Regions from separate parts of the Homo sapiens genome. Here region 2 is linked to region 1. The links come from fine-mapping of genetic effects on gene expression. A gene starts in region 1. The other region holds a variant in brackets. All regions are shown on one strand. Distances are from middle to middle. Region 1 holds the start of MED15 (mediator complex subunit 15). Region 2 overlaps KLHL22 (kelch like family member 22).

The links.
Region 2: its variant is fine-mapped to the expression of MED15 in whole blood (TOPMed, PIP 0.98).

Annotation. Positions count from the first base shown.
Region 1 is chr22:20,505,086-20,510,458 of GRCh38, forward strand. It overlaps MED15 (mediator complex subunit 15), which reads left to right and starts at 2,525. Exons shown (of 18, transcript NM_001003891.3): 1 at 2,525-2,661. The coding sequence starts at 2,594. RefSeq lists enhancers at 129-628, 2,508-2,617.
Region 2 is chr22:20,452,735-20,458,107 of GRCh38, forward strand. KLHL22 (kelch like family member 22) reads right to left here. Exons shown (of 7, transcript NM_032775.4): 5 at 5,074-5,266. It also overlaps the pseudogene KLHL12P1. Among named protein-coding and RNA genes, the nearest start is that of SCARF2, 18 kb to the left of the region's middle. RefSeq lists enhancers at 2,612-2,781, 3,530-4,031. The variant C/T (reference allele first, on the strand shown) is at 2,438.

The DNA.
Region 1 (5,373 bases):
TTACTAAAAATAAAATAAAATAAAATACAAAAATGAGTCGGGCGTGGTGGCGCACTGTAGTCCCAGCTACTGGGGAGGCTGAGGCACGAGAATCACTTGAACCCCGGATGGCGGGGACTGCAGTAAGCGATCACGCCACTGCACTCAAGCCTGGCAGACCTAGCGAGACTCTGTCTCAAAAAAAAAGAAAACAAGGCTGGGCGTGGTGGCTCACGCCTGTAATCCCAACACTTTGGGAGGCCAAGGCGGGTGGATCGCCAGGTCAGGAGATTGAGAACATCCTGGCCAACATGGTGAAACCCTGTCTCCACCAAAAATACAAAAATTAGCCAGATGTGGTGCCAGGTGCTTGTAGTCCCAGCTACTCAGGAGGCTGAGGCAGGAGAATCACTTGAACCTGAGAGGCGGAGGATGCAGTGAGCTGAGATTGCGCCACTGCACTCCAGCTTGGGCGACAGAGTGAGACTCTGTCTCAAAAAAAAAAAAAAAAAAAAAAAAAAAAAAACCAAGGGCCGGGCGCGGTGGCTCACGCCTGTAATCCCAGCAATTTGGGAGGCCGAGGCAGGCGGATCATGAGGTCAGGAGATCGAGACCATCCTGGCTAACACGGTGAAACCCTGTCTCTACTAAAAATACAAAAAAATTAGCTGGGCGTGGTGGCGGGCGCCTGTAGTCCCAGCTACTTGGGAGGCTGAGGCAGGAGAATGGCGTGAACCCGGGAGGCGGAGCTTGCAGTGAGCCAAGATTGTGCCACTGCACTCCAGCCTGGGCAACAGAGCAAGACTCCATCTCAAAAAACAAACAAACAAACAACAACAACAAAATAAAACAAGGAAAAAAACACTAAAACCTTGGATGTCCTGGGCAACCCCGGTCAAGATGATCACTCTAGATAGAGTTTTTAAAAATTAGTTTTCAGCCTGGCCAAGATGGTGAAACCCTGTCTCTACTAAGGATACAAAAAATTAGCTGGGCTTCGTAGCAGGCACCTGTAATCCCAGCTACTTGGGAGGCTGAGGCAGGAGAATCACTTGAACCCGGGAGGCAGAGGTTGCAGTGAGCCGAGATGTCACCACAGCACTCCAGTCTGGGCAACAGGGCGAGACTCCATCTCAAAAAAAAAAAATTAGTTTTGCCACCGGGCACGGTGGCTCATGCCTGTAATCCCAGCACTTTGGGAGGCCGAGGTAGGTGGATCACCTGAGGTCAGGAGTTCGAGACCAGCCTGGCCAACGTGGTGAAACCCTGTCTCTACTAAAAATACAAAAATTAGCCAGGCATGGTGGGGTACGCTTGTAATCCCAGCTACTGGGGAAGCTGAGGTGGGAGAATTGCGTGAACCCGGGAGACAGAGGTTGCAGTGAGCCGAGATGGCACCACTGCACTCCAGCCTGGCCAACAAGGGCTAAATTCTATCCCCCCCCCCTCAAAAAAAACAATAACGATTTTGGGAGTATTAGAGCAGAAAACGTTTGAAAACATGAACAGCTCTCACATCAACACAAGACATGAAACTCTGTTGGCAAGAGAGGCCTCTTTGGGGAGAGTGCTCACTCCTCTCCCACCCACTCTCTACCACCTTCAACCTCCTGTCTGGGGCACAGTAACAAGGGGTGTAAGGGGTGTACAGTGCCTAGCAGGGGCCTGGCACTTAGGCTTCAGTAGGTGCCAGTCCACAGTCTCCTGAGGCCCATGTTGGTTGGTGTCCACCTGGTGCTTATTGACCACTTGGGCTCCAGATTTTCCTCACGTCACCTCCCTCCCCAGGGTAGCAGATAAAGGCCCCATAGTTCCAAGGAGGCAGAACTTTTACATTCCTAAAAGCATTCTCAGGCCCCCATAACCCCTCATCCCACCTTCAGCTCGCTCACCTTCACCTATCAAATTCGTTTGACATCTGGCCTCCAGCAACTAGCTAGGCTGAGTTCTCCATGAAGGGGACGTGGCTGCTGGTCAAAAGGGAAAGCCCATGTCTAAAAATTAATTAACGTGGTTTAGGGGCCTCACATTCCCAACCCCCAAATACAGCCATTGTGAGATGTGAGATTCAAAAAATCGAAGAGTGAAGCGGTGATGAGAGTCCATCTGGTCGCTCTTCGGATGCGGCGCTAGCAGGCAGTTGCATGAAAGCAGATCCCAGATCACGTTGCACTGGCACACAGTAGGTACCCACACATATTTGATAAATAAACACTCTCTCCCTAGCATTACTATAGATAGCTGGCAGCTTGGCCTGGCATCCCGGAGGGGTCTGGATCTCAGGGACTAGATAAGGCCAGCACACTGAAGAGTTGCAGAAAATGCAGGCGGTCAGGCGCAGGTCTGCTGCGGGAGCACCTGCCGTGTCCGACAGCTGCACTGGAAGAGGGGCGTGTGTCTCCCAGCCGGGCGGAACCGAGACCGCTTCGTCCCCGGCGGGGAACTTCATTTCCCACAAGCCTGTGCGCGAGACTCCATTTCCCACAAGCCCTCCTTCACTTCCGGCTCGGCCGAGGCACTGCGGACGGCTTCCGGGTTTGGGCCTGGCTCTGTGACTGAGGCGGCGGCGGTGGCGGCCAAGCGGGATACGGGCGGCGGGAGCTGGGGAACAGGCATGGACGTTTCCGGGCAAGAGACCGACTGGCGGAGCACCGCCTTCCGGCAGAAGCTGGTCAGTCAAATGTGAGTAGTGGTCGGGGCAGGGGGCTGGATTGTGGGACCTTCCTCCTTAGCGTGGCGGGCGAGGCCAGGGCCGGACCCGTGAGAAACCTACGGCGCCGGGAGACAGAAGGCGCCGGGGACTTGCGTGGGTCCCAGGGCTCGGGCCCCCCCGTCTGTCCCCTCCGTTCCCGACATGGACTGCTCGTTTGCTTTCCTGGGGCCGAGCTCTGCAAACCAACGAGCCCTGGCTTATGAATCATCGTCTTGAGCTTTCTCATTCGTCATTTGTGTGCTTTGGGTGCAGACTTTCCCCCGCTTTTTGAACCACACTGAATAGGGAAAGGGAGAGAAGCAGCCGGCTGTAGTGGGTTTAGCAGGGCTGGGTGCTTCATGGTTTCTCTTCCAGAAAAGCGCATCAACGGTGAAAGAAAGTGATGGGAGGAGGGTGGATGTAAGATGAGATTGGGAAGGTAGTTGTTTGGGGTGTGGGCGGTGGGACGGAGGATCTGAGGGTGACCCCCCGAAGGAATGTGGACTTTGCCGAAGGATGGCAGGAAGCCGCTGTCAGGAAGCGATCGTCGTTTCTGGAGGAGAGCGTGAAGAGCTGGGGTCAGTGGCCCCGCTCAGAGGAACTCTAGCCCCTCACCACCGACTGCTTGTTTCTGTTAGCAGTTTTTTTCATGCGCGTCCGTGTGAAGAGACCACCAAACAGGCTTTGTGTGAGCAATAAAGCTGTTTATTTCACCTGGGTGCAGGTGGGCTGAGTCCGAAAAGAGAGTCAGCGAAGGGAGATAGGGGTGGGGTCGTTTTATAGGATTTGGGAAGGTAATGGAAAATTAGTCAATTGTTCTCTGGTGGGCAGGGATGGATCTCACAAAGTACATTCTCAAGGGTGGGGAGAATTACAAAGAACCTTCTTAAGGGTGGGGGAGATTACAAAGTACATTGATCAGTTAGGGTGGGGCAGGAACAAATCACAATGGTGGAATGTCATCAGTTACGGCTGTTTTTACTTCTTTTGTGGATCTTCAGTTACTTCAGGCCATCTGGATGTATACGTGCAAGTCACAGGGGATGCGATGGCCTGGCCTGGGCTCAGAGGCCTGACAGTTTTTAACTGAGCTTATTGGCGTGTTGTGCTCGCCACAGATTTGCCTGAGACACAGCCCCTTTCCTGAGGGATGGTAAAGGAACCGTCACAGCGCAGTCTTGTCAGTCTGTAATGTGTATACTGCAGGGGTTTCTTGCGAAGCGGCGGTTAACTTGAGCAGACCAGGGGCAGTCTAGTGAGTAGGTGACGAATAAATTGAGTCCTAGAAAGACAAGTAGGAGTGTGAATAGCCACCATTCCAAGCTGAGGAGTTAGGAAACATGAGCATTTACTGCGTGGAGGGAGGATCTTGTAGGCTGAGAGTTCTGGGGCTCGAGGAGTAAGAGAGCCCAGGAGATGATGGAATGAGGGTGAGCAGGTACTAGCACTTTAGTGGGGGTGTTGTGCCAAGGAATTGAGCCTGTGTTTGGCATGTGGCATTCTTTGGAGTAGTGAAATGCCAGTGTTGGGAATATGCCTAGAGTCCCTGTCCCTGGAGATGGATGCAGGGCAGAGAAGAGAGACCAGTTAAGCTATTAAGAGAGTTTGAACATTTGGAGGGAGTAGGGAACCTGTCCTTTTTCATCCTTATATTCTCACTGCTAGCTCACTGCCTGCCACATTGCTCCGTAAAATGATTGTGGCATGACCTAGTCGGGCGGGAGATTATAAAGGCCTGCATTAGACAGTGGTAGAAACTGAAAGAGGAAGACAGATTCCAGAGGAGGGGGAACGTAGACAATTCTTGATGACTAACTGGATGGAGGGGGGTGGGGTGTGGGGTGAAGCATTGTGGAAGGAAGGAAGCCGGGCTGAATGCTGGGAAACCTTTCAGTACAGTGGAAAGAGTAGGGACTGTAGAGTTAGTAGCTATGGGCTTTGGGAAGAATAGCCTTGGGATATTTCTGGGGATATTGCACAATCAGTGAACAGTGTTTTACTGATAAAATATAGTTATCTGTAGGTGAAAACTTGAGAGATATCCCACTTCAGGGTTCCTGCAAGAAAAGTCCCCAGGGCAAGGGTTCTTCTCTGGGAAAGCCCAGAATTAAGAACTGGAAGGGTGAGTTGTCATCAAAGAAAATGGGGGTAGGGGAAGTGTTAAGAGGGCTGGGAGGGTGATTGAAGAGTTTATGGGTGTTGAGTGACTGGATACTTCATAACTCAGCTTTATTTTGCTTCCGGGAGAATTGAGTTCTTTATTTTTTTCGATATTGCTGTTTGTGTGTTTTTCTGTTGCCGCTCTAACAAATTACCACAAGTTTAGCATCTTAAAACAACACACCTTTAGCCAGGTGTGGTGGCTCACGCCTGTAATCCCAGCACTTTGGGAGACTGAGGCAGGCGGATCACGAGGTCAAGAGACTGAGACCCATCCTGGCCAACACGGTGAAACCCTATCTCTACTAAAAATCCAAAAATTAGCTGGGTGTGATGGCGCACACCTGTAGTCCCAGCTACTCAAGAGTCTGAGGCAGGAGAATTGCTTGAACCCGGGAGGCGGAGGTTGCAGTGAGCCGAGATCGCACCACTGCTATCCCGCCTAGTGACAGAGCGAGACTCCATCTCAAAAACAAACAAACAAAAAACACACATTTATCATTTGGTAGTTTCTGTAGGTCAGAGGTCCAAGTAGGTTCCAC
Region 2 (5,373 bases), 52 kb before region 1:
AAAGCCTTTCTTTGTTGAATCAAATACTACTACACTATTACACTTCCACACTATTTATTTGGGGATGGACTGGGAGTGACAGTAGCCTAGTAGTTCAGCTACCTGATTACTGCCCCATTCTTTTAGAAGCACACTTCTGCCAAGGAGTGGTTTGTACTGCTGTGATTGGTACATTTAGTCTTTTTTCTGCTATAAGTTTTCCTTACCTGTCCTTTAGTGTAGATTTTATTCATTACAGGACAGAATAATCAAGGACAACCAAAATCCTTTTGTTAGTTTCAGTACCTCAGCTATCAACATTTCTGAGCTATCATTCAATGTTCCTCTGTGTCATGGAGTGAAATTCTTGTTTTATGGGTATTGGGAGTGTGGGAATGTGATAACCTAAACAACCTTTGCTCTGAAATTCCATTTTTCCCTCTTTCCCTGAAGTGTACTGACCTGTACTACAGAGTTAATTTCTTTTGTATTTTTTTAAGAAAATATTAAAAATCAATGGTCTCAAAAAAAAAAGATTTTCTTCTTCTTTTTTTCTAGAAGTTTTATGGTTTTACATTTAACTCCATAAACCATTTTGAATTCATTTTGGTATATGGTATGAGACTTGGGTTGATATCCATTTTTTTGCCGACGCATGTCTAATTGCTCCAGTACTATTTGCTGAAAGATATCTTTCCTCCACTCAATTGTTTCTGCACCTTTGTCCAAAATCATGTGTAACATGACTGGGCATATTTACTCAGGTCTGTGGGTTTTCCATTCTGTTTCACTGATCTATGTGTCTATCACTGTATCCATACCACAGCCTTGATTACTGTAGCTATGTAGTAATCTTGAAATTGGGCAGACTCCTCCCATCTTATCGTTCTTTTTCAAAATTATTTGAGCTATTCTAGTTCCTTTGCCTTTATATATACATTTCAGAATAATCTCATTTACATCTAATGTCACAAGTAAAATCAAATCAAAATTAAAAAATTTATTTTATTTATTTTGAAATTTATTTTATTATTATTTTTTGAGACAGTCTCACTCTGTCGCCCAGGCTGGAGTGCAGTGGCGCAATCTCGGCTCATTGCAACCTCTGCCTCCTGGGTTCAATCCATTCTTGTGCCTCAGCCTCCCCAGTAGCTGGGATTACAGGTGTGTGCCACCACACCCAGCTAATATTTGTATTTTTAGTAGAGATGGGGTTTCACCATGTTGGCCAGGCTGGTCTTGAACTCCTGACCTCAAGCGATACACCATCCTCGGCCTCCCAAAGTGCTGGGATTACAGACGTGAGCCACTGCGACCAGCAATAAAAAAAAATTTTAGGCTGGATGTGATGGCTCACTTCTCTAATCCCTGCACTTTGGCCGAGGCAGACAGATCCCTTGAGACCAGGGGTTCAAGAACAGCCTGGGCAATATGGTGAAACCTTCATGATACTAAAAATATAAATATTAGCTGGGCATGGTGGTGCTCACCTGTAATCCCAGCTACTTGGGAGGCTGAGGCAGGAGGATCACTTGAACCAGGGAGGCAGAGGTTGCAGTGAGCCGGGGTCATGCCACTGCACTCCAGCCTGGGTGACAGAGCGAGACTCTGTCTCAAAAAAAATAAAAATAAAAAAATTTTTAAAAAGCTTATTGTGCATGTAAAAGAAGAGTTCATGAACCAGGAAACCCCAAACTGGAAGTGGTATGAAGCCCCAATTCACAGCAGTTACAACACAGTTTATAAAGCATGAATGAGGAAGAATATTGTTCCCTACTGTGCATGTGGAGCTGCATAAGCTTTCTTTGTAAAGCTATCACACTGAGGGAGGAAAGCTTAAGTTTCAGTTACATGGCTACAGGCAGTTGGCCTAGGGGTATATCCAAACCTCAGCTTCAATTTTCATTTTCCCTTAATAGTACAAAAAACCTTCCTGAAATTTTGATAGGAATACTAGTATTCCTGTATTAATACTATATCAATATGAGGAATTCTGTATTAATATATGTATTATTAATTGGGTTGGGAAAGAACTGACATTCTTACTATTCTTACTCTTCCAATCCATGGACTTGGTATGTCTCTCCATCTATTCACATCTTCTTTTATTTCTTTCATCGGCTTTTTGTAATATTCAGTGTACCAATCCTGTGAGGTTTTTTGTTTGTTTGTTTTGAGACGGAGTCTTGGCAGAGTCTTGCTCTGTTGCCCAGGCTGGAATGCAGTGGTGTGATCTCAGCTCACTACAACCTCTGCCTCCCGGGTTCACGCCATTCTCCTGCCTCAGCCTCCTGAGTAGCTGGGACTATAGGCGCCTGCCACCATGCTCAGCTAATTTTTGTATTTTTAGTAGAGATGGGGTTTTACCATGTTGGCCAGGCTGGTCTTGAACTCCTGACCTCAGGTGATCCCCCCCGCCTGGGCCTCCCAAAGTGCTGGGATTACAGACGTGAGCCAC[C/T]GCGCCCTGCCAACATGACCTATCCTTTTTCATTCCCCAACATCTGATCCATCAGCAAGCCTGATCAGTTTACCTCCACGCTACACTCTGAACCCTCCCATCTCCCTCCAGCTCCACAGCTGTGTGCCAGCACAGGCTACTGCTGTCTTCAGCCCAGACCACGCAATGACCCAGGGCCAGCCTCGCTTGCTCTGCTCTTGATCCTTGGGCTTCCTTCTTCTACAAGCATGCCCCATGCTTCCTCTCCTGCTCAGGAAAAGCTGTGAGCCCCTCTCCTGCCCTGGAAGGTCCTTCTGCTAGACTAGGCAGATGGTTAGATATGAGCAGGGAAGTGGACTCCAGGTTGGCCTCAGCCCCTAGCATGGCCAGAGGGACTATGACCTCTGAGACATGTTAACCACACCTGGGGTTTCAAAAGTCCCAACCCCTCTTTCAGTTAAGCTTATCCAGCTCAAGTAGGAACTAACCCCACAAGGAACTTTCCACCCCCGGGAGCCTGTGTTGTATAGTTTGCCCCAGTTTTGCTTGCTTCGAAAGTAACCTTTTGTTCACTGCAGTGGTAAAAAACACACCTCCTGGGTGAAGATTTAAGATGCTAATGAGACATGCGATAAATACACTAGCACGTAGAGCCACAGTGCATGCGCTGCTAGAAGACCACCCAAACAAAACATGCTTATGAGTAACACCTCTTCCCGCCCATTTATGAATAATCATGTAAGCCTCCTGTAAGGGAGGTTTCCCATGCCAGTTGGGGCGATCTTATTCTGGAGCAGCCTGCTCTGACTCGGCCTTCAGAATGTACCTTCACTTTTGCAATAAACTGCCTTACACTTATCTTCGTTAATGCATGTCTCTTGCTTAAAGTCTTAACCAAGAAGACAAGAACCGAGGACACATTCCCAGTAACATTTCCTCCCTCTGTAAATGGCAGGTCTAATTGACATCTCCTCAGATGGACATTCCCCAAAAAGTCCCTCTAGATTCATCCTACCAGAGCCCCCTCCCTGGAAATCCTCCAGTTCAGCCCCCTCTTCATTTCACTTACCATAATTGTAACCACTTTACTGATCTGTTTTCTGGTTAAGAGTGGTTTCTCCTACAAGGCTGTAAACACCATGGAGTGGGGAGTCTTTCTCATTTCTTGTCACCACTGGATTCCCAGGACTTGGTACATGGTGCTTAGTAGTTGCGGAATGAATGCGTGCATGAAGGAACACCGGCAGCCACGATGCAGCTGGTTGAAAGCCAAGGCTGCCCCTCTGTGGCCAAGCTGGAGAACTGCTGCTTCCCCAGCTGCCGCAGACAAAGAAACTGCTAAGCCCCTCCCACAACACCCACCTAGGAGGCTTCCCCCAACACCCTTCCTGGAACAGAACCCAAGAGCCCTCCTTGTCCACTTGGTCTCAAGGACCTCCTGATCTTCTCCATGCAAAATCTGCTCCTTTCCCCAGGATGGGGGTACGGAGTGTCCTTCCAAAGAGGCTTCCTTCTCCCCAAAGAAGCTGAGAGCAAGGAGCAGGCCACAGCTTGCAGCTCACAGCTGCCCAAGAGACAGAAATCTGTGTGGGCTGTGTGAATGACCTGGATAAAGAAGAGCTGGATCCATTGAGGAGACACTAGCCCTGACCCCTGAAGTCAAAGTCTAAGTCCCTGGGGGAATTGGGGGTCATGAGAGATACTGGAAAGAGGCTTACAAAGGCCAGAGCTCTTGCTAAACTCCCTGAGGCAGTGCAGGTAGAACCTGCCCCCCATACCATCCTCTGCCTCTCAGGTGCTCGGTTATCCCCAAAGGTGTACCTGGCCCATAGCAGGTGCTCCACAAATGCTATGCCAGTACTAGCGGGGTGCCCTGCTAGGGTACCCCTAGTACTGCTAGGGTATGCCCTGTTCTCGGAGGCTGAGACCCAGGAAGTAGGGGGCCAGCAAGGCCTGTTCCTTCCCTGGGATCCCATGTCTGGTTGTTACACCAGGCCTGAGTACCCCAAAGTCGTAAGATAAAAGAGAGGCACCTCCCTAAAACATCATTTTTCCATAATGAACATAATTTTAAACATCTTCAAATTGGAATAAACCAAGGTATTATATAGGATGCACGTGATTTTTTTTTCAAGTTGTCCCAATATTCAAACATAGGATTTAATATAAAAAATAAAACCTTAGAGTGTTTCTTGGCTCTGGAAGGCGCCACCCTTCAGGGGACCTAGAGGGAAGAGGTCTGAGGATAGGCCAGTGAGCTCTCAGGGTCCCTTCCTGTTTAACATCTCTGGAAGTGTCCCAGCTCGTCTCAGCTGCACAAAGAGCAAATGTTCTATCCACATTTGAACTACAAGGTTTAAGCAGCTTGCCAGGGCCAAGGTGGTGTGACAAGGTCTCAGCATGTAAGACTCACAAGTGGGGCACAATTCTGAGCAATGGGGTCTGGATCCTTGATGAGCCTCCCCAGGTGGACTGGCTGAACCTCATGGGGCCTCATCAATGCATTCAATGCAGGGTCTCTGGAGAAGCATGGATTCTGCTCACTGAGCCTGTTTCTCTGACCTGGGACAGGCCTTGACACCTAGGCCTCTCACTCTTTGCACATCCTGGGGAAGGAAATTAGGCAGGAGAAGGCCCCTCTTCGAGGGCTTCCTTACCTCCCTCTTGAGTGGGGCCACGTATGCCCAGGAGTTGGTGGCAGGGTCGTAGCGCTCCACAGCATTCAGGTCATTGTGGTAGTCACGGCCCGCCACAGCGTAGATGTACCTGCCTACAACACACACGGACAGGTCGGCGTGCTCCTGCTGCAGGGACTGGATCTGGAACCAGCGGTTGTGCCGTGGGTCATACCTGTGCCGAGACATGAGGAAAGCACAGCACTGACTAGGCAGGGAGGCTGCTCCGCAGGCTTGCACCTCTTGTTCTGGTCCCATTTCTGCTTTGCCTCAGCCCAGCCT